Homo sapiens: one gene and its partners. The protein of the gene in region 3 interacts with the protein of the main gene of each other region in a pairwise test. Each region holds a gene or a part of one and is shown on either strand. Other genes may lie near its edges. The genes, in order: MS4A13, TMEM140, ASGR2, SEC22A, ORMDL1, VTI1B and CD53.

Region 1 (3,500 bases), on a different chromosome or scaffold from region 3:
CGGAAAGGGAACTCCCTGACCCCTTGAGCTTCCCAGGTGAGGCAATGCCTCGCCCTGCTTCGGCTCGCGCACGGTGCGTGCACACACTGGCCTGCGCCCACTGTCTGGCACTCCCTAGTGAGATGAACCTGGTACCTCAGATGGAAATGCAGAAATCACCCGTCTTCTGCGTCGCTCATGCTGGGAGCTGTAGACCGGAGCTGTTCCTATTCGGCCATCTTGGCTCCTCCAACCTACTTTACTAATTTTTGAAGCCTTTCTTTGTTAAGTCCAACATTTATTCTTCCCTTGCTCAAAGACGCTATGTCTATTAAGTGTTGTTTTGAACCCTATGGGTAACTATTATTATTTGCATACTTTTTGTTGTTGAAAACTGGACATTTTAGATAATATATGGTAGCAATTTTAGATTCTGATTGCCTCATTTCCCAGGAGTGGTGGTTAGCAATACCAGTGGTTAGTATCTTGGAATACTGGAAGTCCTAACTCCCAGTACCTTGGAATGTGACTGTATTTGGAAATAGGGTCTTTTAACTGGCAATGAAGTTATAATAAGGTAATTAGAATGAGCCCTAATCTAATATGACTGGTGAGCTTAGAAGAGACTAGGACACAGACAAATAAAGAGAAGACCATGTGAAAACACAGGGAGAAGACAGCCAAGTGAAAGCCAAAGAGAGATGCCTCAGAAGAAACTAACCCTGCCAACACCTTGATCTTGAACTTCTAGCCTCTGGAATTGTAAGAAAATAAGTTTGTTGTTTAAGCTACAGTCTGTGGTGCTTTGTTATAGAAGCTCTAGGAAAGTATTAGACACCTTGAGCCAGTAAGACTTCTACCCTTTCCCAATGAATCAGTGTAGCTTGAGCAATATATTCAAAGTTGAGGTTGCCCCAGCTTTTACTTTATTTTTGCAAGGCCTCTTGTTCAACCAAGGGCTCACTAGGACCTTCTCCTGTCTCCTTAGTATGTGTATAGCTTTGCACATATTTATATTCTTCCAGACTACAGGGGAAAAGTAGGAAGTTATCAAGGTCCACTGTGGCTGTCCTGTTCTTCAAATTTCTCTGTTGAGTTTCTGGTTGGTTGCTAGTAAATTTTTTGCCCCAACAAGTATTGTGATCTTAGTCAGGCTAGGAGTGACCTTGGCCTTATCTGCTTGTTTGTCACTGGGATTACTGTTGTTTTAATAACGCTTTTGGTCTTGGAACTTTCTGAGCTCTGTTCCAAATAAAACTAGTCATCTCAAGCAATGAGGCTGCTGGGCCTCACAGTCTGACCCACCAAGGTAAACTTCTGCGTAACGGAATCTGAGGGTGGGGTAGTATATTAGTCTGTTTTCACACTGCTATAACAAACTTGTCAAGACTGGGTAATTTATAAAGGAAAGAGGTTTAATTGACTTACAGTTCCACATGGCTTGGGAGACCTCAGGAAACTTACAATGATGGCGTAAGGCAAAGGGGAAGCAAGGACCTTTTTCACATGGCAGCAGGAGAAAGAAGACTGAGTGAATGAGGAACTTGCTAAACACTTATAAAACTATCAGATCTCATGAGAACTCACTCACTATCATGAGAATAGCATGGGGAAAACTGCCCCCATGATCCAGTTTCCTCCCATCAGGTTCCTCCCTCAAAACCTGGGGATTACAATTCAAGATGAGATTTGGGTGGGGACACAAAGCCTAACCATATCAGGTGGGAAGAGTGGGAACAGTCCCAAGCTAACATGCCACAGACATGCACTGTTCTTACTGAGGTCCAGTAGATTTTCTTAAATAAACACTTCTCAAGTTCTTGTATGCTTGGTCAACTTCCTGAATCTTTAGAAGGTTGTTCATTGACAATTTTGTTCAGTTTTATAATTTCATTTTTAGGGAGAGTTACCATGTCCTCAATCAGCCATTCTGGAAATGCAACTCATTCCCTCTCTTCAGAAATCCTTTTACCATGTAGTCTTATAGTTGTTTCTGTATTTCAATCAGTTGTTGATCATAGTAGTCTTCCTTGACCATCCTACATAAAATAATCTTGCCTTATCTCCTTAGTTTGCTTTATTTTACTTCATAACATTTTTCAGTTCTTGACATTTTATAATTTTATGTGTTTGTTTATTGCCTTTCTCCCCCAGTGGAATGCAAACTCCCTAATGGAGAGGCCATTGTTTTGTTAATCATTGCATCCTTAGTGCCTATGACAATGCCTAGCAAATAGCATGCTCTCCGTAAATATTTGAGAAAGAATGAATGAATGTTAGATATGTAGTCTTTTAAGCTTGTGAGAAAATAATCATTCTCATAAACTTTTGTGAGTTGTTATAGCATTTTGGGATGTTGTTACACTTGATCCTGCAATGACATTTCTAGGAATCAAACACCTAAAGAATTAGTGGTCCTGTATGCAAAAATATTTATACTCAAATGTTCACTGCATCATTGTTTATAATTTAGAAAAAACTGGAAACCAAGCTACATATGCAGTAATTAGGGAATGCTAAATACTAAGAAAAACAATGAAGGCAATAAAAGGCATTATTTAGATATGTTTTGTAATGGAAAGATATTTCTAATCATTGCAAAAAATGAATGTGACAAAATAATGTGAATATAATACATACAATTAGTAAAGAGAATGTGTGTGTATTCGTCTTTTTTTGTATAGAATTGGATGTGTGGATACGATGAGAACTATATTAAAGAAAAATCACTTTTTACTCTATATGCTTTTTGCTTTTAAATGTAGTTTCATGTATTACTGTTATAATTTTATGCTATTTATAAAATAACAAAAATAAAAAATAAAGGCAATATCACACATTCCATTTATATTAGTTCTAAATATTTTGTATCAGTGCACTTCATCTTCTCATAGAGTGTAGTTACTAGAAATCAACATCTTTTGATTTGCCAGAGAGTGGGTAAACACTTACCAAATTGGAACAGCTGTATATTGAGTGTGTAAGTGCAATAGAAAATTCCAAACCGTAGAAGAACAGTAAAATACGTGATACTTCCCTCCCAAGTTTCTATAACCAAAAAACAGGGAGAAATCTTAATGCTATTATCTTTAGTGAGTGCAAACATGATCATGGAAGGAGCTACTGGTATGAGAGTCAAAAAAAAAAAAAAAAAAAAGGAAGGAAAATAAGAACAGATAAACCTTTCACCATTTGATTTCCTTAGACATTTCTACTCCTTTGCCCTCTGCTACACTTTCCCTAGCTTTCAGTTCCTCAATTCAGCATCTGTGGCTTCTGCATTTGATCTCCATTGCTTAGCATTCTTGTCTCACTTCTGACAGCTTTTACAGAGTCGCTGGCACAGCTCACTATCTAAACTCTCCAGTTAGTAAGATTTGACTTTCCTGTCTCTAATGATAAGATGGCCACCAACAGATTTATCAAGCAATCCTTTTCTATTAAAACAGCTATTATTAATCACAACCCTTCTTAAATTTACATACATGGTGATAAAACTCTCACATATATATTGCTCTAAT
Region 2 (3,500 bases), on a different chromosome or scaffold from region 3:
GTCAAGGAGAAACAAGGAATCTATGCTCTCCCGCACATACCTAGGACAATACCCAGTGCCTGCTACGGGTTGCTGTGAGACCGAGACTCAAGTAGACCACCCTCCCTACAGCTTCTTGACCATGCTGCTCACCTGATAGGGGCCCCACCTTCTCTGTTCACAAGCCCACAGCTGGCACCATTTTGAGAGTTTAATGCTGATTCATAACCAGTCTGAATTAACAATCAGGCAATGTGGCTGCAGCTGCCACCCTGGTAGGAAAGGGACAGGGAAGACCAAGCTCTCCTAAGCACACTTAGAACAGTGCCCACCACCCTGCTACAGGTGGCTGTGAGACTGGGGAGTAGCTCACCCAACCCATCACAGCTTCCAGCAACACCAACATGGACTGCTTGGATCCCAGTTGGCTGCTTCAACAGTGCTACTGCCATCACTCACATGACACCACCTGCTCAGGGGCTAGAGATCATGCCCACACACTGGGCTCACCACTCCCACTACTAGCTTCTAAGCAAGCCATGTGGAGGCCCAAGAATCAGCCCTCCAAGACCCACTAACCACCAGAGCAGCGTAAGCTGCTGTGGGGCCTAAAAAGGGCACACTTACCCCACTGTTGCCACCACTGGGGTCCAAAGGCTGCTCAGTTGGCATCCAAGTCCCAGCTAAACTTCTGGGGACTTAGTCTCAGCTAATTACCATACTCTATCCCACTGAGGAAATCACAGAGAACACTGACCCTATGCCGAAGAAGTCATAGAAAGATCACACGACTGCAGGCATCCAAAATCAAAGTCAAAGCATCTTAACAACATGCATATATCCTCAGGAAAAAATTCTCCCTTATAAAAGCAATTTCAAAAAATTGGAACAAGCAACTGCTACACCAGACGCAAAGAAATCAATGGAAGGATACAGGAAACATGTAAAAGCAGAGAAACATGACACCATTGTATTAGTCCATTTTCACACTGCTGATAAAGACATACCTGAGACTGGGAAGAAAAAGAGGTTTAATTGGACTTACAGTTCCACATGGCTAGGGAGGCCTCAGAATCCTGGCAGGAGGTGAAACACACTTCTTATATGGTGGTGGCAAGAGAAAATGAGGAGGAAGCAAAAGCAGAAACCCTGATGAACCCATCGGTTCTCATGAGACTTATTCACTATCACGAGAATAGCATGGGAAAGACCAGCCCCCATGATTCAGTTACCTCCCCTGGCGTCCCCTCTCACAACATGTGGGAATTATGGGAGCTACAATTCAAGTTGAGATTTGGGTGGGGACACAGTCAAACCGTAACAATCATCAAAGAACCACAACAGCTGTCCAGCAGCAGCAGATCCCAATCAAAGAGAATTCTTCAAAATGCTAGATAAAGAATTCAAAATATTGATTTTAAAGAAGCTCAATGAAGTGCAAGAGAAATCTGAAAACTAATACAAAGAAATCAGAAAATTAATCCAGGATATAAATGAGAAATTTATCAAGGAGATAGACATCTTAAATAAAAACAAGCAGAAATTCTGGAACTAAAAAATTCATTGAAGGAAATACACCATATGCTCAAAAACTTCAACAGTAGACTACACCAAGCAGAAGAAAGAATCTCAGAACTCGAAGACAGGACTTTTGAAATAATCCAGTCAGACAAAAATGAGGAAAAAAGGATAAAAAAGAATGAATAAAGCCTTTGAGATGTCTGGGACTGCAAGAAGCAACTGAACTTATGAATTATTGGTATTTCTGAGGGGGAAGAGAGATTAGAAAGTTTAGAAAACATATTTAAAGAAATAGACATCCAGATACAGGAGGCCCAGTGATCCCCAGGAAAATACATTGCAAAAGGACCTCACCATGGCATATTCAAAATGTCTGAAGTCAAGTGAAAGAAAGAATTTTAAAATTAGCAAAAGTGACTAGTCACCTATAAAGGAAATCCCAAATCTCATCAGACCAATTGAGGACTTTTCAGCAGAATTCTTACATGCCAGAAAACAATGGGATGGCATTTTCAAAGTGCTAAAGGGAAAAAAAAAAACAGTGTGTCTGTCAGCCAAGAATTTTGTATCCTGCCAGAATAAGCTTTATAAAAGGAGAAATAAAGTCCTTCCCATACAAGCAAATGCTGAGGGAATTTGTCACCACTAGACTGGTACTACAGGAAATGCTCAAAAGGATCTTAAACACTGAAATGAATGGTGTTTTTAATTAATTATTTTTGATAGAGGGTCTTGCTTTGTCACTCAACCTGGAATACAGTAGTGCAATCACAGTTCATTGCAGCCTTGACCTCGTGGGCTCAAGCAATCTTCCTGCCTCAGCCTTTTGAGTAGCTAGAAATACAGACATGTGCCACCATGCCCGGTTAATTTTTAATTTTTTTGTAGAGACAAGATCTTGCTATTTTGCCCCGGTTGGTCTTGACCACCTTCCATCAATTAATGCCCCTGCCTGGCATCAATTAATCCCCCTGCCTAGCATCCCAAAGCACTGGGATTAAAGGCATGAGCCACGATGCCCAGCCAAAAGGTTGATATTCACCATCACAAAAACATACAGAAGTATAAAACTCATAGTTTGTATAAAACAATCATACAAAGGAAGAGAAAGGAATCAAATGGCAACATGACAGAGTTTCATCAAAACACAAAGTCAAAAAGGCAAAGACAAAGAGTCTATAAAACAACCTGAAAACAATAAACAATATAACAGAAACAAAGTCTCACAGATCCATATTAACCTTGAATGTAAATGGATTAAATGCTCCACTTAAAAGATACAGATTGGCAGAGTGGATGAAAAAACATGATCCATGCTGCTTACAAGAAACTAACCTTACCCATAAAGACATATAGACTGAAAACAAAGGGGTGGAAAAAGATATTCCATGTAATTATAAACCAAAAGCAAGCAGGCATAGCTATACTTATATCTGATAAAACAGATGACTTTAAATTAAAAATAGTAAGAAAAAAGATAAGGTCATTGTATAATGATGTAGGGATAAATTCAGCAAGACGATATAATAGTCCTAAATATATATGTACCCAACATTGAAGCACCCAGATTAACAAAACAAATATCACTAAAGAAAGAGGTAGACAGCAATACAATAACTGTAGGGGACTTTTAACACTCCACTCACAACACTAGACAGATCATTGGGACAGAAAATTAACAAAGAAACATTGTACTTAAATTGAACTTTAGACCAAATGGACTTATAAAACATTCTACCCAACAACTACAGAATATACATTATTTTTGTCAGCACATGGAACATTCTCCAAGATAGATCACATGTAAGGCCACAAAAGAAGTTTTAACAAACTTTTTAAAAATTGAAATTATATCAAGTATCTTCTCAGACCACAGTGGAATAAAACTAGAAATCAATACCAAGAGGAACTTTGGAAACTATACAGATAATGGAAATTAAACAGCATGCTCCTGAACAACTACTGGGTCAATGAAGAAATTAAGACAAATTAAAAACATC
Region 3 (3,500 bases):
AAAGTTAGCCAGGCACGATGGCGGGTGCCTGTAATCTCAGCTACTCGGGATACTAAGACAGGAGAATTGCTTGAACCTGGGAGGCAGAGGTTGCAGTGAGCCAAGATCGCGCCATTGCACTCCAGCCTGGGCGACAGAGCAAGACTCCATCTCAAAAAAAAAAAAAATTTTTTTTTTTTTTCAGATACAACACTTAAGGAACCTAGGAAAGGAAAGACTCAGACACATGGGAATAAGAGGTATCCTGGTCTCCTCACCTTTCCTATGGAAGTTATACAAACTTTTAGTTTTCAAAGCCAATAATTTTCAGCCTATTATTTAAAGTTATACAAGTAATCACTGGAATAACTCTAAATAAACTACATAGTTTCCAAAATACCATAAAGAAGAAAACAAAAAGAACACCTCTCACATAGCAATTGTAAGAAAATTAAGAAGCATGTAAAGCAGAAAAAAGAAAGGACTAGGGTTAAACATATCTATTAGAATGTAAATGAGACACTCACCTATTAAAAGAAAAGGTACTTATTAGATTTTTAAACATCAAAAACAAAACCTGCCAGGTGCAGTTTTTGGATTACAGTGGCTCAGACACCTGTAATCCCAATATTTTGGGAGGCCCAGGCGGGCGAATCGCTTGAGGCCAGGGGTTCAAGACCAGCCTGGGCAACATGGCACAACACCATTTCTACTAAAAATGCAAAAAACTACCCAGGTATGGTGGTGTGCACCTGTAGTCCCAGCTACTTGGGAGGCTGAGGTGGGAGAATCCGTTGAGCCCGGGAGGCACAGGTTACAGTGAGCTGAGATCATGCCACTGCACTCCAACCTGGGCGATAGAGCCAGATCTTGTATCAAAAACAAAACAAAACAAAAAACCTATATAGGAGAAATACCTTAAGCTTAGCTGCCCTGTGCTGCCCCTCAGGGAATGGTCCAGGATGAAGCCAAGATTAATTTAAATTAGCATTTTTTTTTTTTTTTGAGTCAGAGTCTCGCACTGTCACCCGGGCTGGAGTATAATGGCGCAGTCTCAGCTCACCACAACCTCTGCCTCCCGGGTTCAAGTGATTCTCCTGCCTCAGCCTCCTGAGTAGCTGGGATTACAGGCACCCGCCACCATGCCCGGCTAATTTTTGTATGTTTAGTACAGATAGGGTTTCACCATTTTGGCCAGGCTGGTCTCGAACTCCTGACTTCATGATCCGCCCACCTCGGCCTCCCAAAGTGCTGGGATTACAGGCGTGAGCCACTGCACCCGGCCTAAATCAGCATTTTTAAGGGCGAGATCCAGGAGTCGATATATTTTTTTTAACTCTTGAAGAGATTGCAATGTACAGTCAAGACTGAGAATCATTAATTTAAAACAGAGATTCAAAAAGGTAAGAAACAAAAGGATGGACAGAGATACAGCAAGCAAATGCAAGTGACAAAAAAATCAAGGACCGTGGTATTTATATATCAGATAAATTCAAGGCAAAAAGCATTAACTGGGACACACGTTGGCTTCATAGTGACGAAAGCACCGTCCACCACGAAGTTGTAGTGGTCATGAGCTTATTGTGTGCCAAATCACAGAGCACTGAGATCTTAGGTTGAACTGCATGAAACTGACATTTTTATAGGTCAAAACTGATGAAATGTTGGCAAGTTCAACCTGATCAGTAAAGCAAAATATGTTCGTACTCACAGTATGCTGTAAAGTACTAACAGAGCCTGATGTAATGCAAACAATACATATATTCTGGCCCCTGTATCATATGGCTTAACTACTGTGGCATTAAAATACTTTGAAGTTCAGCCAGACGCGGTGGTTCACGCCTGTAATCCCACCACTTTGGGAGGCGGAGGTGGGCGGATCATGAGGTCAGGAGTTCCAGACCAGCCTGGCTAAGACGGTGAAACCCCGTCTCTACTAAAAATACAAAAAAATTAGCCGGGCATGGTGGCACGTGCCTGTAATCCCAGCACTTTGGGAGGCCGAGGCAGGAGAATGGCGTGAACCCAGAAGGCGGAGCTTGCAGTGAGCCGAGATCGTGCCACTGCACTCCAGCTTGGGCGACAGAGCGAGACTCCATCTCAAAAAAAAAAAAAAAATGGATAAAATAAGCCTGATCCAGCCTCCCAGAGCAGGCCTTCCAAGGGCTTCCTCCTGCCTGTGGGAAGCGTGGCCTCACCTGCTCCTCCCAGGAGTTGATGACCACCAGGTGTGCGTTCTCCAGCTGGCAGTACTTCTCCGCCTCAGCCCAGGCCTTCCCGGAGTGAGAGAACCAGTAGCAGCTGCCTTGGTGCTCCACCCAGTTGACGGGGCAGCAGGTCCTTTGGGAGCCTGAGGGGACAGGGGGCAGGGAGATGAGATCCAGCCGGAGGGGCAGGCACACTGGGCCTGGAGACGGCCCCACCCCTACCGTTGCTGTGGAGGAGCTCCATCTGGCAGGCCACGAAGCGCAGGTCCACGGGGAAGTGCTTCAGATGGAAGAGCAGGGCATCGTGATCTAGGACAGACAGGCTGAAAGTGCTGCCGGCAGGTGTGGTCCCCACCTGCTAGGCTCCAGCCTGTGGCTGGGGAAGCATATACACCCACAGACACGTACACCATGCATAGACCACACCACACACCATACCACACACACACCACAGACATGTACACCACACATAGACCACACCACACACAGATCCATCACACACACACAAACACACCAAGAGACACACCACACACATCACATGCGTACACACACATATACCATACCGCACACACACAGACTCATCTCACACACACCACCACACATGCATACACACACAACACACACATATACACCACACTACACACCACACACAGATCCATGACATATCACACCACACATACGGAGAGAGACACAGATACACATGCTTGCAGGCACACACACGCACGCACGCACACGTGCACACTACACACACCGCACACGTACACACTACACACACCGCACACGTACACATGCACGCACATGCGCACACACCCCGGAGGCTCTCTGACCTGCTTTCAGGTCCTGCTGCTGTTTCTCCAGCTTGGCTCCTAGGGATGTGATCTTGTCACCCACGCTGCCTCCTGGAAGCGGAAAGCCAGCTGTTTCCCCGCTGAGCCTCCCTCCGTCCTCATGCTGCTGGGGGACCGGGGGCCAGCGCCTCGTCCTGGGCGATGCAGGCGTCCACCTCCTGGCTTCCTGGACCACACCCAGGCTCCCTGCACTGCCACAGTGGCTCAGGCCACTCTCCTGCTTCAGTCCCTTCAATGGGTCCCCATTTTCTCAAAATAAAGCCTCGCTCTGTCAGCACGGCTCACCTGCGTGGCCGGGCCCCTCCCCACCTCTCTCTGGCCACCCCTTACCTGCCTGCCCCTCCGATGGGCCTGCCACACTCGATTTGCTCACAGGCCCAAGACATGGTGCCTTCCTCACCTCCGGGTGTCGCAGATCCAACCTCTCCACCTGGCACTAACCTCGTCCGTCCCCACCTGCCTCCCT
Region 4 (3,500 bases), on a different chromosome or scaffold from region 3:
CAAAATGATTTGGCAATTTCAACAAGAGTCTGAAGGCATACCTTTTAACCTCAATAAATTTAAATATATACCTGTCTTGAGAAAAATAATCAGAAATCCAGGCAAAATTTTAAACAGAAAGACATTCTTCCACTCAAATAACTGAAAGCAATCTAAATATCCTATAAAATGGTGATGGTTAAGTAAATTATAGTATATTCATATAACAGAATATAATGCAGCAACTAAAAGTTATGTTTGTGGAGAAAGTTTAATAATGTGGTAAAATGCTTACATGTTAAGGAGAAAAAAGTAGGATAAAAATTGCAAATGTTGTTTTACACAAACATAAGGATAAAGAGACGAAGATAAAGAGAAGGAAAAAGGGATTGAAAAACGGATGCAGAAAAAGATGCCAAATTAAGAATATGCTCACCTCTAAGAAATGGTATTATTGGTTATTATTATTTTATAATTTCCTAAATGTTCTCAATATTCACAGTAGACATATACTACTTTTATAATCAGAAAAAAATTATTTAAAATAAATCCTAAAGCTAAAGGAATATTGGTTTTAATGTTGTTCTCAATCTTTTTACCAGAAAGTAAATCTTAATGGCCTATTTTATTGGATTCTCTTCTTGCTTTACAAAAACAGATGAAAGGACTTCACAGGCCTGAGTCTGAAGGAACTCAGGTCAACAGTCACTCAACCTTTCATAAAATACACAGTGGCTCTCAAACTTTAGCTTGCATAAGAAGTTGAAAGTTTAGTTAAAAATGCAGATTTCTGAGCTCTGCCCTCAAAATTCTGAACCACTGACTGTGGGATAGGGCTTGACAATTTGCTTATTGTCTAAGGCCCATACTTTTTAAAACATTAAATTAAAACATGTTCACTATCTAAGATTAAGTGATAACTCTTCTCTGTCAGGCCATCAAAGCACAATGTCACTAAAGGCTTCCTCACTAGTGGTGAGGCAACTGGTGAAAATTCAAAAATCTGATAAAAATCTCACAGGCATTTTTCCAAAAATATTGTATCTTAGAGACTAAATTAATCCTTACCTGCCCACTTAATCTAGGTCAATATTATCTCATTCCAAAAAGGAAAAAATGAGTAATATATATAAAAAAAAATACCACAGAAAACCAGTTGTTACAAAGCTTGTAAATCAGGAGCTGATAGTTTTCACTGCTGTGTGAAGTCAAAATATGACTTCCCATTCATGGTGATAACTGATCTGACAATAAAAATTAACCCAACTAATAAATCTAATGCATTAAGTTCACTATCCCTTTTTCCTCTTTTCATGAGGAAAAAGGAGAAATCTCTAGGTGTTACTGTGTCATTACCCTTTAATATTTTTCTCCTTCAGAGACAGGGTCTCACTGTGTCACCCAGACGAGTGTAGTGGTGCGATCTCAGTTCACTGCAACCTCCACCTCCCAGATTCAAGCAATTCTCATGCCTCAGCCTCGCGAGTAGCTAGGATTACAGGCATGCGCCACAACACCCAGCTCATTTTTGTATTTTCAGTAGAGATGAGGTTTCGCCATGTTGGCCAGGCTGGTCTCAAACTCCTGGCCTGAAGTGATCTGTCCACCTCAGCCTCCCAAAGTACTAGGATTACAGGCATGAGCTACCACGCCCAGCCTCTCCATTCATTTAAAGAGAAAAATATCCAGAAGCAAATTAGTCTTTTTACTACAGTGGAGTCTTCAAACTGAAGTCCCAGTGTGACATATCCCAATTGGTGTTTTTTTCCATTCATCTAGTTTTTTTCTCTCCTAAAAGCAGTAGCATGAAAAAGTTGGGATCCCTGAAGAGATATCTATACTATAAACCCCTCTTTAATTTTTTTTTTACCATGTTTTACTTAATTATTAAATCACAATTGTAACATTTAGCCTAAGTGTAAGAAAGTAGGAAAATGTCTTACTCTATCCCCTTAAGCGTTTATTATTTAACTATAAAACTGTTGTCTTTCCAGAAGTACACTGCAACACAATAACCATTCTGGGAATTAATTTGAGGGTGAGTTGTAACTTGCAGTTCTAAATACCCACATTTTAGTATTTAAAAGCAGATTGGATGGGGTGCCATGGCTTATACCCATAATCCCAACACTGCTTGAGGCCAGGAGTTCAAGACCAACCTAGAAACATGGTGAGGCTCTGTCTCTATAAAAAAAATTAAAAATCAGCTGGGCATGGTGGCACACGCCTATAGTACTTGCTTTGGGGAGGCTGAAGCAGGCCCAGGAGTTCAAGGCAATGGTGAGCTATGATTGTGCCACTGCAGTCCAACCTGGGTGATGAGAGAGATCCTGTCTCAAAAAGTAAAATAAAAGTAGACTGTATTATTTTATGTCTGGCCTCTCTAGGATCCTAATAGAAATATTATGAATAGACTTCATTAATAGGTTGCCAAATTTCATGTAGTCTTCAAAGTTATTCTTTAGTGACTTGGAGGACAGATCAATAAATATATGATCCATGCTTTCTAAAACACATACTGTAAAAAGAATACAATTTGTAAGTTCCATTCGTTTACCAAACATTTACTGAATATCTAATGTGTCCCATGAATTATGCCAGATAGCAGGAATGAAGAGTCCTACCATCAAGAAACATCACTCCTCAATTAGAGAAACTCAGTTGAAAAGAGCAAACAATGCAGGTGTGTTGCCCACCACTTCACTAACTGGAAAACTAAAGTTGGACAAACTTACATTTCAAATACTCCTTTTTTTGTTGTTTTTTTGTTTTGTTTTGTTTTGTTTTGAAACAGGGTCTCACTCTGTTGCCCAGGCTGGAGTGCAATGGCTCACTGCAACCTCTGCCTCCCAGGTTCAAGCGATTCCCCTGCCTCATCCTGCCAAGTAGCTGGGATTACAGGTGCCCGCCACCATGCCTGGCTAATTTTTGTATTTTTAGTAGAGATGGGGCTTAACTGTGTTGGCCAGGCTGGTCTCAAATTCTGACCTCAAGTGATCCACCTGCGTCGGCCTCACAAAGTGCTGGGATTACAGGTGTGAGCCACTGCGCCCAGCCTCAAATTTTCCTAATATGTACTTTAGCCTTTAACCAAAAGCAGAACACAGTAGTTACATTCCCTGTCAAAATTATTACAAGGTTGTCAGAGAATGGTTTCTACTTATCCATAGATAAGATTTTTCTTAGGGAAAAAATTAAACCTCTTTCTACCACAGTAATTTGATTCAGCATCCAAAGCACTTGAATTTAAGCCTGACAAACGGGGATGAATGTCCAATGATCAACGTCAGGCTTAACTAATTTGTAGACAGATTCCAACCACCTTAGGCTAAGCTGTCTCTCCATCAATTCAATAAACATACCCCTACTTTTTTTCTTTTTACCACGGATTCATAATATAGTTTGTTTTTTTTTAAACTAATCTTATCTGGACTGTGCTAGCAGAAAAGGAAATCTGTCCATGTCAGGCCTAAGCTAGGTTAAAGTATCTTTAAGGTCTTAAGGAGGGTTGTGGTTGGGAA
Region 5 (3,500 bases), on a different chromosome or scaffold from region 3:
TTTCTAACCGGGTGTAACAATTAGGTCCATTTTCTCATTTTTAAAGGCATTCAATATGTACTTCAGATTTTTAATTGGTTTAATGTGGCTATATTCAAAGGAAACTTAAATTTGGAGTCATGTAATTGCAACTCCGATGGCTAATTAAGTTTTTAGTGTGGTGAACTAATAACAAATAAATCAGAAGTTTGCTTTTCTATACAATGTCAATTACCAATCATTTGTCCATGGTCAACCAACTTGAAACACGGTTAGGGGGTGGTGGTGGTACAGGGATGGCATCTAAACCGTGGTGGCTCACACTCAGCACTTTGGGAGGCCGAGGCGGGCAGATCACCTGAGGTTGGGAGTTCGAGACCAGCCTGACCAACATGGTGAAACCCTGTCTGTACTAAAAATACAAAAATTAGCCAGGCATGGTGGTGCACACCTGTAATCCCAGCGACTCAGGAGGCTGAGGCAGGAGAATCGCTTGAACCCAGGAGGGGGAGGTTGCAGTGAGCCAAGATCGTGCCACTGTACTCCAGCCTGGGTGACAGAGTGAAACTCCGTCTCAAAAAAAAAGGACTAACTTATTCGGCAAACATTTAAATACGTTCTTAGCGATACAAAAATTAAAACATAAAGAGATAAACTGCTAATTATAAAACAATGACAAACACATGATAAAAGAATGCAGCATGGGAGTTGTGTAGATTCCTGGAGGGACAGTTTTGCTGTAGGAAATCAGGCAGAGCAGGAAGGAGGGAGAGGTATTAAAATAGTAGAGACTGGGCCGGGCATGGTAGCTCACACCTGTAATCCCAGCATTTTGGAAGGCCAAGGCAGGTGGATCACCTGAGGTCAGGAGTTCAAGTCCAGCCCGGCCAACATGTTGAAACCCCATCTGTACTAAAAATACAAAAATTAGCCAGGTGTAGTGGCACATGCCTGTAGTCCCATCTGTTCAGGACGCTGAGGCAGGAGAATTGCTTGAACCTGGGAGGTGCAGGTTGCAGTGAGCCAAGATTGCGCCACTGCACTCCAGCCTGGATGACACAGAGAGACTCCATCTCAAAAAAAATAAAAGTAGACCCTGAGTACTATGGCTCACTCATGCTTTGGGAGGCTGAGACAGGAGGATCACTTGAGGTCAGGAGTTTGAGACTAGACTGGGTAACACAGCAAGACCCCCATCTCAATCAGTCAATCAGCTGAGCATGGTGGCACACACCTATAGTCCTAGCTACTTGGAAGGCTGAGGCAGGAAGATCACTTGAGACCAGGAGTTCGAGGCTGCAGTGAGCTATGATCATGCCACTGCACTCCAGCCTGGGTAACAGAGTGAGACCCTGTCTCTGTAAGAAAAACAAAATGGCTGGGCATGCTGGCTCATGCCTGTAATCCCAGCACTTTTGGAGGATGGTGCAGAAGGACTGCTTGAGGCCAGGAGTTCAAGACCAGCCTGGGCAACATAGTGAGAGCCTATCACTATTAAAATAAAAACAAATTAGCCGGGTGTGGTGGCATGTGCCTGCAGTCCTCAAATTTATTGGGAAGCTAAGGTGGGAGGAGCTATGATCACGCCAGTCTCTTAAAAACAAAAGAGTACTTGGTCCAGGTGAAAAGAAAATATAGTAGAAAAGCTTAAGCCAAAACAATAAAATGAGAGCAAGATGATTTTCTTTATTGCTAGTGTATAGCCTCTATTTAGAGATGGTTGAGACAAGGTGAAGTCTCCTTGTTTCTGCACTGTTATCAACTGGTCTTATATGTCACACAAGAAACTTGGATTTTACCATGACTGCAATGGATGATCACTGAATGACTTAGAGTATGACTTGAGCAAACATGCATTTTTAAAACATCACTCTGCCAAGCTGGAATGGAGAAGGGTAGAGAAGCATCAAGAAGACTATTTGATTTATCTGAGTAATTTACTTGAGGAAAAAATGAGGGTATGGGGATCAAGTTGAGAGTAAAGCAGTAGAAGACAGTGCTCTGAGCAAATGGATATGGAATATAAAGGAAAAGAAGTTATCCTAAGACTTAGGTGACCTTGTATTCTTGTTTGCATACGATGGTTCTGATTATACCTAATCTCTTGTAGTAGTTATTACCAAAGCTCCATTTTACTCTCTAAACAGCCTGTTTGGACTATACATTACAGGTTGAGTATTCCTTATCCACAATGCTTTGGAGCAGAAGTGTTTCAGATTTTGGATTGTTTTGGATTTTGGAATATCGGCATATACATAATGAGATATCTTGGGGACAGGGCCCAAGTCTAAACATGAAATTCATTTATGTTTCATATACATCATACACACACAGCCTAAAGATAATTTTATATAGTATCTTTAATAATTTTGTGCATGAAATAAAGTTTTGATTGCATTTTAATTGCAACCTGTCAGGAAGTCAGGTATGGAATTTTCCGCTTGTGGCACAACACTGGTGCTAAAAAAGTTTCTAATTTTAGAACATTTTCTATTTTGGGTTTCTGATTAGGGATGCTCAACCTGTATATTAATTGCTTTACCATTAACATTCAGCTGTCTGGCTTGGCCTTTAGATAAGATTAGTAGTGAAGCCAGAGGATCAGATTGTGGGTGGTAAGGGAGTAATCAGGAATAAGATAAGTTCCATTTATACTTGTTTGGTTTAAGGTGCAAAGTAATCTGGTGATAAAAATAAATAGGAGCATCCTTATTCTACAGGTAGAAACTGAAAATATGGGTAGATGAAGTAACCTAGGTAGAATACATAGCATAAGAAGAGATGAAGAAAAGAACCTTGGGAATAGAAATATTTAAGAGAGGAAAAGAGAAGGAAGACCCCATAAGAAGAAAGAGAAGGTCAGAAATATATGCCGGTGAAAGTGATCCTATAGAAGCCAAAGGAAGTTTCAACAAAAGTGAGATGATTAGTGTAAAATATTTCAGAGAAGTCACTATTTAAAAGAAAACATCGTTTGCTCTTACAAAGTCTATCACATAAAATGGACTAAATGGACACATATTTATCATGTCTACCAGCACATCATTCTTATCCTCCTCCAGTCAACTTCAAATATACTCCAGAAGATAGAAAATAAATATTATTGTTATTATTTGAGGCAGGGTCTCACTGTCACCCAGGCTGGAGTGCAGTGGCACGATCTTGGCTCACTGCAACCTCCACCTCCCAGGCTCAAGCGATTCTCCTACCTCAGCCTCCCGAATAGCTGGGACTATAGATGTGCTGCCACCATGCCAGGCTAAGGTTTTGTATTTTTTGTAGAGACAGAATTTCAGGCTTCACCATGTTGCCCAGGCTGGTCTTGAAATCCTGAGCTCAAGTGATCTGTCCACCTCAGCCTCCCAAAGCACTGGGATTACAGGCATGAGCCACCGTGACTGGCCAAAATAAATATTAATTTTTAAAAATCAATTTCTCCTGTTTTCCTGTCTTAATGCTTTAAGTTCATTTTAAAAAATATCTTTCAACAAATGTACTGCTAAACTGGATTCAATTAAAAT
Region 6 (3,500 bases), on a different chromosome or scaffold from region 3:
TTACATTCACCTTTGTTGTCTACCCAGCCTTTTTCTCCATCCTGCAAAGAGGACAATCAGAAATATGTGAATTTCTTTTCTTTTTTCTTTCTTTTTTTTGTTTTTTTGAGATAGAGTCTTGCTCTGTCGCCCAGGCTGGAGTGCAGTGGTACAATCTCAGCTCACTGCAACCTCCACCTCCTGGGTTCAAGTGATTCTCATGCCTCAGCCTTCCGAGTAGCTGGGATTACAGGCGCATGCTACCACACCTAGCCAATTTTTGTATTTTTAGTAGACACGGGGTTTCACCATGTTGGCCAGGCTGGTCTCAAACTCCTGACCTCAAGTGATCTGCCCGCCACGGCCTCCCAAAGTGCTAGGATTACAGGTGTGAGCCACTGCGCCCAACCACAAAATACTCTAAGTTGCTGGTAACAGACATAGTTGTTTAATGGATAAGTAAAGAAAATATATACATATCCCTAGAATTATAATAAGTCCAACAACTTTACCTCTTATTCACTACCTCATTCACACTGCTCAATAAATGTTTGTTGAATAAATTGAATTTATCTAAGCAAACACATGGTGCCTCATCTCTGAATCCTCTTTTTCTAGTTCAGAGACCACATCATAAAGTTTTCAGAGCTTTAATGCCCATCATGAATTATTAGGCACAGCATAATGTACATAATACAGTCCTTGCATGTAGCTTATGCTCTGTAATTGAATTCAGTCATTTTTCAATAAACACTGAGAATTATTATGTATCAGCCACTGTCTAGGCTCTGAGGACTTCCAGAGTTCTTACCTTAAAAAGAAACAAACGGCCGGGCACGGTGGCTCATGCTGGTAGTCCCATCACTTTGGGAGGCCTAGGCGGGCGGATCACAAGGTCACGGATGGAGACCATCCTGGTCAACATGGTGAAACCCCATCTCTACTCAAAATACAAAAATTAGCTGGGTGTGGTGGCATGTGCCTGTAGTCCCAGCTACTCAGGAGGCTGAGGCAGGAGAATCGATTAAACCCAGGGGGCAGAGATTGCAGGCGACAGAGCGAGACTCTATCTCAGAAAAAAAAAAAGGTAACAAACCTTACAACCAAGTGTGTGATTAATCCTAAAATAAAGTTCTCTGAGACCATAAAAAGGGCTGGACTTGAGCATGGGGAAGAGGGGGAAGCTTCAAAAAACTTCAAACTGAATATAAGGGATTGAATGGGAGTTTGCTAGATGGGAAATGCGAAGAGGCAACACAGGAGTAAAACATGGAATACTCCCAACTCTGGAGCTTAGAATGTATGTGGGAAAGTAGTAGTAGAGGGGCAGGTGAAACAGCCAGATTGTGAGGGGATCTCAGTGTCACATTGAGACATTTGGACTTGATATGGAAAGTCAGTAAAGGACGTAAAGCAGTTGATTGATGTGGATTTTCTTTTAGAAGGAGGGCATTAATGGCTAGACAGGACAAGAGAGAGCACAAGAATCTGGGTACAGGGGACTGTGTTAAGAGCCTTTTGGGCAGTCACCTTGCTAACGGGAATTTGTTTGACACAGGTTCTCACTCCTGTCTCCCGTCATCCAGGCTGGAGTGCAGTGGCACCATCACTGCTCACTGCAGCCTTGGCTTCCCGGGCTCAGGTGATCCTCCCACCTCAGCCTCCCGAGTAGCTGGGACCACAGGTGCATGGCACCAGGCCTGGCTAATTTTTTGTATTTTTAGTAAGGGTCTCCCATGTTATCCAGGCTGTTCTCGAATTCCTGGGCTTAAGTGATCCACCCACCTCAGCCTCTTAAAGTGCTGGGGTTACAGGGGTGAGCTACAGTTCCCGGCCCAAGAGTTGGTTTTGAGGCAGAAATTAACCAGCCTCAATGGATATGAGGAGTGAGGGAGAAAGGTTCCAGGGTGTCTGCATTTTTTCACTTGGTCAACTGGGTGAATGATGAACTTAAGTAAGAAACATAAGAGGAGAAGCAGAGTTTGGGTTGTGGATGAGAATATCAAAGGTACCTGTAGAACAGAGATCATGACATAATATAGCCTTACAAAATGTTTCTTCTTCTGCCATTAAAAATAACATACGGGGGCCAGGTGTGGTGGCTCGTGCCTGTAATCCCAACATTTTGGGAGGCTGAGGCAGGAGGATTGCATGAGGCCAAGAGTTGGAGACCAGCCTTGGCAACATGGTGAGACCTATCTCTACAAAAAAAAAAAAGCTGAGTAGTGTGGTGCTGCTCACTTGTAATCCCAGCTGCTCAGGAGGCTGAGGCAGGAGGATCACTTGAGTCTAGCAGTTTGAAGTTTTAGTGAGCTGTCATCACATCATTGCACTCCAACCTGGGTGACAGAGCAAGACTCCGTCTCAAAAAAAAAAAAAAAAATTATGAAGAAGTATGTGAATTGAGAGGCCATATAGTATAATATTTAACAGCAAGAATTCAAGAGCCAGATTGCCTGAGTTTAAATTCACCTTCTAGTAGCAGTGTGACCTTGGACAGGTTACTTTAACCCAATTAGTTTTTCCTGCCAAATGGGGATAAATCATAGTATCTACTTCACAGGGTTTTTGTGAGGAGTAAATGAGTTAATATATGTAAAGTCCTTAGAATACTGCCTGATAATAGAGCTACTAGCCATTTTATTTAAATGAAAATTAAGAATACCAGCCCTGTATACAACTATTCTTACCTTTTTTTTTCCAGAGTACTTATTTTCTGACATATTAGACACTTTCCACATTTATGATATTTACAGTATATTGTTTGTCTTCCTTTCACTAGGACAGTGGTTTCATTGTGGTCCATGAACCAGCTGCATCAGCATCATTTGGGAACTTGTTAGAAATGCAAATTCTCAGGCCCCACCCCAGACCTATTGAATCAGAAAGTTTTAACAAGCAGTGTGTTTTCACAGCCCTCCAGGGGGTTTCTGATGAAGGCTAAGTGTGAAAGCCACTGAGCTAGAATATAAGCTCAATGTTGTCTTTTTTTCACTGTGTTTCCTAAGTACCAGAACAGTGCCTAGCACAGACTAGGTGCTTCATAGATACCTATTGGATGATGGAATGTGTGAATTGTTGGAAAGAAAATATTGATATATGATTGTGATTTATTTCTATTCTGTTGTCCACATTTTCATTACTTTAAAAATGGGTATATTCCACCTATTAAAACAACAAAAACTGTATTTCTCCAAAGTACAGTCTCCATTCACTTTCTGCCTTTGAATGATACTAGAGACAATGTGTCCTGTTTTAGGAAGTTTTTGTGTAACTGTCCATTACCACTTACAATAATTATTAATCCATTTAATATTTCATTAAATACCTATGGCCATAATTTCTACTCTTGGTTTTACAACCTCTGAAGAGGTCTCTCCAATTACCTCAGAGTACTATAATGTGCTATAATTTCTTAATCTAATCAATGTTAAATGCCTGTGGTCATGATTTCTAGTTTTGGTTTTGTCATACCTGAAGACATCTCTCCATATGTCTTAACGTGTATCATAAAAATATTG
Region 7 (3,500 bases), on a different chromosome or scaffold from region 3:
CAGCTTTGGTGCTACATAGACCATTACGCTTATGAGATATTAGTAAGTGCTCCTCAAACAAAAGCCAAGATAAAGAAAAAAAAACAGTGTAAGAGAAAAACCTGTTATATGCTAATGTGCACTGTGAGTCTCTAAGACAAAAATATGTTTATATAACTACAAACCTAGTTTTATGTTGCAGATCACTTATTAACAGGTCAAATAACATAGTATTCTGTGGAACACAGTTTGATAAACACTAGCTTTGGAATCAGACAGGTCTAGTTTTGAATTCTGTTAGTGCTACTTATCAGAAGTGTGACCTTGGGCAACTTGCTTAACCTGTCTTTCACTATATCTTTGAAATAGGGTTATTAATACTTACCTCAGAGGTTGTTCTGAGGGCTAAATGAGATACTATTTCCAGGATGGCTCAGTCCCTGTGTATCTGCCTTATTCAGTGAAAACTCACTGAAAGATCAAGTTCAGACCTTACCTACCAGTCCATTCCTAAGGGTAACCCTTAGCTTCTAACAGATTTTTAGGAATAAAACATACACGGGGCAAGAATAATCCCTTGCTTGTTTCATACGTTTTAAAAAGAGGTTTCGTGTGCCATTTGTAAAAAAAATAAAAAAACAAAAAGAAATCAAACAATAAAGAAAAGCACATGTTTTTTTTCCATTTGTACCTATTAGAACAAATTGAAAATGTTAAATTTCAGTAATAAAAGATAAATAAATAAATGCAAGTACAGTTTCTGTAAGACTTCCTTTCAGTGAAGAAAAGCGTTTAATAGAAAAACACCTTTGTATGCTAAGATTGAGAATACGTTATTAGAACACATTTCTTTCTCCACTGAACTCTGTTAAGACATGTTGGAAAATCCCAGCAATAAAAGGCAAATGTAAGCACAGTTTCTTTAAGATGCATAAATTGTTTTCTTTCAGTGAATGGAAGTGTTTGGTAGAGAAACACCTTTGTAAGCTAAGATTGAGAATATATATTATTAGAACACATTTCTTACTCCATTCAAACCTATTAGAAAAAGTTGAAAAATCCAGCAATAGAAAGCAAATGTAAGCATGCTTTCTTTAAAAAAAAATTCTACATTTAAAAAATAAAGAAAAGTATAAAGAAGAAAGCATAAAATCTTCTGAAATCCCACCTCCCAGAGATAACCATCATTAGCATTTTGGCAAACGTCTTTCCAGACACTTCTCCATATACATTTCTCTATATACAGATTGTCAATTTACATACAAGAGCATTCGCAAGGTAATTACGGCTCCCTATCCCTTCCTACACAGAGCCTGTGGCAGTCTTTGTTCCTTAGCAAAGACAATTGAGGCTGTGATTAAGAAAAAGTTTTTCTAAATAGGAGCGAAAATCTGCCCCAGTGAGGGCTCCCAAATGTAGGCCTTGCTCAAACAAACTGAGATACATAATAGATAGTTCACTGAATCCCACAAAATAACTAAGTTCCTCATAAATGTCTTATTTATAATCCTCAAATCGGCCTGACAACTTAGGTGTCATTAGCCCCATTCTGCAAATAGAGAAGCCGAGGACTGGCACAAGGTCACCCAGCTAAGAATCATCAAAGGCAGGGTGAAGGCCAAGTTCTTTCAGCCTCCAAAGCCCATGCTCTTTCCACCGTCCCAGGCTCTGGTTTTGTGCCTATTACTTCCCAACTCATTTGGTGCAATGTGTTGAGCATCCAGGAGAAGACCTTCCATTTTTCATCAGCTCGTTTGAACTCCTGTGAGCAGTGGCTGAGGTGCAATCAAAGTTATCGCTGTACGTCCTTTTGAAGAGTAATAAGCAGTTGTAGAGGAAGAAGTAGGGGTAAAATAAAACGAAGCCAAAGCATCAACTCTCATGTATTCGTGTCCATTCATCTCTCCATCAACTAATCAAGGAATATCTGTTATCTTATTCCTTCCTAAAATTGTAATCTGATAAAAATTTTGTTTCTTCTAGGTCGCTGTTAGGGGAGAGGATTTGGCGATTTATAGAAGAAGAGAGAAATAAGGAAGAAGAAAAGAGGAGAGAAAAAGTGAAGAAAGACAAATCCAGATGATCTTGGAAGCTCACTTCCTCCCATGTGGGAGCTTAGCAAGATACTAATAACAGCTGAGGTGGGACAGGGACTCTTCTAATAAGCTTACTTCGTAAATCAGGAACAGTTACCTAAAACAGTTAGCACTGTTACAGAGTCAAGAGACCAGAGGTTCTCCGTCCTCCTAGGTAGAAATATGCAGAACTTTACATACGGGGTCCCTCGGCTAGAGGCCTGTCCATGGTGTCTGCAGGCTGGCTATGCTCAGATTAAGCAAGACTCTTTGTGGGATAAGAAAAGCCACTTTGTTGGTATTCCTATCAAAAATTTAAATAACCTGAATCTAATCATGAGGAAACATCAGATAAACCCAAATGGAGAAACATTCTAAAAAAGAACTGACCTTACTCTTCAAGAATATCAATGGCAAGAAAAATTCAGGAAGTGTTCCAGACTAAAGGAGACAAAAGTGACAGTTGAAGGCAATGCGTGACTAGAAATTTCCTTTTGCTATAAAGAATATTAAAGAGGTAATTGGTGGAATCTGAATAAAGTACATAGATTGTTAATTATATTGCATAAGTGTTAATTTCCTGGTTTTGATCATTGTAAAGTAGTTATATAAGAGAATGCATTTGTTTGTAGAAATATACACTAACATTCTTAGGGGAAAGGGCATCAATCAAATTACTAATTACTGTCAAATGAGAGAGCCAGAGAATAAACAAATGAAGTAAAATGTTAATATTTTGGAAATCTGGGTGAAAAGGATTTAGAAATTTTTCATAATATTTTTTCAACCTTTTTATCAGTCTGAATTTTGTCATTTTTTTAAAGGGATGGGAAATAAATAAATGATCTAAGGGATTCTCATCTCAAAATCATTACAATTTGTCTTCTATGTTATAAATACTGAGATTCTACAATAGTTATTTTAAGAAGACTAAACTATGGAATAATTCTTGAATGCCTTTATTTGCTCCTGATATAAGGTAAGCCATAAGTTCAAATTTACTTTAACAAGTAAACTTTAACAAGTTTTAAAAGATATGAGGCATTAAAATCATTTCTTACCCCTATTCCTCAATCTAGTTCTCCTGAAATAGAAAAGGCCAAACAAAAAGGTTTGGAAAATAAAATATATGTTAAGTATTTAGTTTGCTAGCATAGTAGCTTAAGATCAATTACATTTACAATTAAGTGGTATTTTTATGTTTGCTTATGTTAAAATGCACTAGGAATTTATGTAAATGAAGAATACAGTCTAATGATGCTTACTTAATAAAAAATCTCTTAGAAAAGGGACTATAGTATAATGTAGAAGAAAGAGCATGCCATAGAGAATCAGAAGACATTCTGAATAACTATTAAGTAATTTTATGATTTTTGGACAAGTCATTTTACCTGAAAAGTAAGCAGATTGGACAGTTGCGACAGCTCCTATTTATTGGCTCTCATT

The links.
Region 1: the proteins of ASGR2 (region 3) and MS4A13 interact in binary tests that used the Homo sapiens proteins (3 or more experiments, as listed by UniProt).
Region 2: the proteins of ASGR2 (region 3) and TMEM140 interact in binary tests that used the Homo sapiens proteins (3 or more experiments, as listed by UniProt).
Region 4: the proteins of ASGR2 (region 3) and SEC22A interact in binary tests that used the Homo sapiens proteins (3 or more experiments, as listed by UniProt).
Region 5: the proteins of ASGR2 (region 3) and ORMDL1 interact in binary tests that used the Homo sapiens proteins (3 or more experiments, as listed by UniProt).
Region 6: the proteins of ASGR2 (region 3) and VTI1B interact in binary tests that used the Homo sapiens proteins (3 or more experiments, as listed by UniProt).
Region 7: the proteins of ASGR2 (region 3) and CD53 interact in binary tests that used the Homo sapiens proteins (3 or more experiments, as listed by UniProt).

What each region holds. Positions count from the first base shown.
Region 1 is NC_000011.10:60,528,892-60,532,391, reverse strand, and holds part of MS4A13 (membrane-spanning 4-domains subfamily A member 13), read right to left. Parts: intron 3,028-3,500; coding exon 2,932-3,027; intron 1-2,931. UniProt on the Homo sapiens protein: May be involved in signal transduction as a component of a multimeric receptor complex.
Region 2 is NC_000007.14:135,154,572-135,158,071, reverse strand, and holds part of TMEM140 (transmembrane protein 140), read right to left. Parts: intron 1-3,500.
Region 3 is NC_000017.11:7,104,823-7,108,322, forward strand, and holds part of ASGR2 (asialoglycoprotein receptor 2), read right to left. Parts: intron 3,086-3,500; coding exon 3,014-3,085; intron 2,496-3,013; coding exon 2,409-2,495; intron 2,330-2,408; coding exon 2,178-2,329; intron 1-2,177. UniProt on the Homo sapiens protein: Mediates the endocytosis of plasma glycoproteins to which the terminal sialic acid residue on their complex carbohydrate moieties has been removed. The receptor recognizes terminal galactose and N-acetylgalactosamine units.
Region 4 is NC_000003.12:123,204,943-123,208,442, reverse strand, and holds part of SEC22A (vesicle-trafficking protein SEC22a), read right to left. Parts: intron 2,143-3,500; exon of another isoform or gene 1,336-2,142; intron 1-1,335. UniProt on the Homo sapiens protein: May be involved in vesicle transport between the ER and the Golgi complex.
Region 5 is NC_000002.12:189,777,840-189,781,339, forward strand, and holds part of ORMDL1 (ORM1-like protein 1), read right to left. Parts: intron 1-3,500. UniProt on the Homo sapiens protein: Plays an essential role in the homeostatic regulation of sphingolipid de novo biosynthesis by modulating the activity of the serine palmitoyltransferase (SPT) in response to ceramide levels.
Region 6 is NC_000014.9:67,668,133-67,671,632, reverse strand, and holds part of VTI1B (vesicle transport through interaction with t-SNAREs homolog 1B), read left to right. Parts: intron 1-3,500. UniProt on the Homo sapiens protein: V-SNARE that mediates vesicle transport pathways through interactions with t-SNAREs on the target membrane. These interactions are proposed to mediate aspects of the specificity of vesicle trafficking and to promote fusion of the lipid bilayers.
Region 7 is NC_000001.11:110,876,148-110,879,647, reverse strand, and holds part of CD53 (leukocyte surface antigen CD53), read right to left. Parts: exon of another isoform or gene 2,014-3,500; coding exon of another isoform or gene 1,963-2,013; intron 1-1,962. UniProt on the Homo sapiens protein: Structural component of specialized membrane microdomains known as tetraspanin-enriched microdomains (TERMs), which act as platforms for receptor clustering and signaling.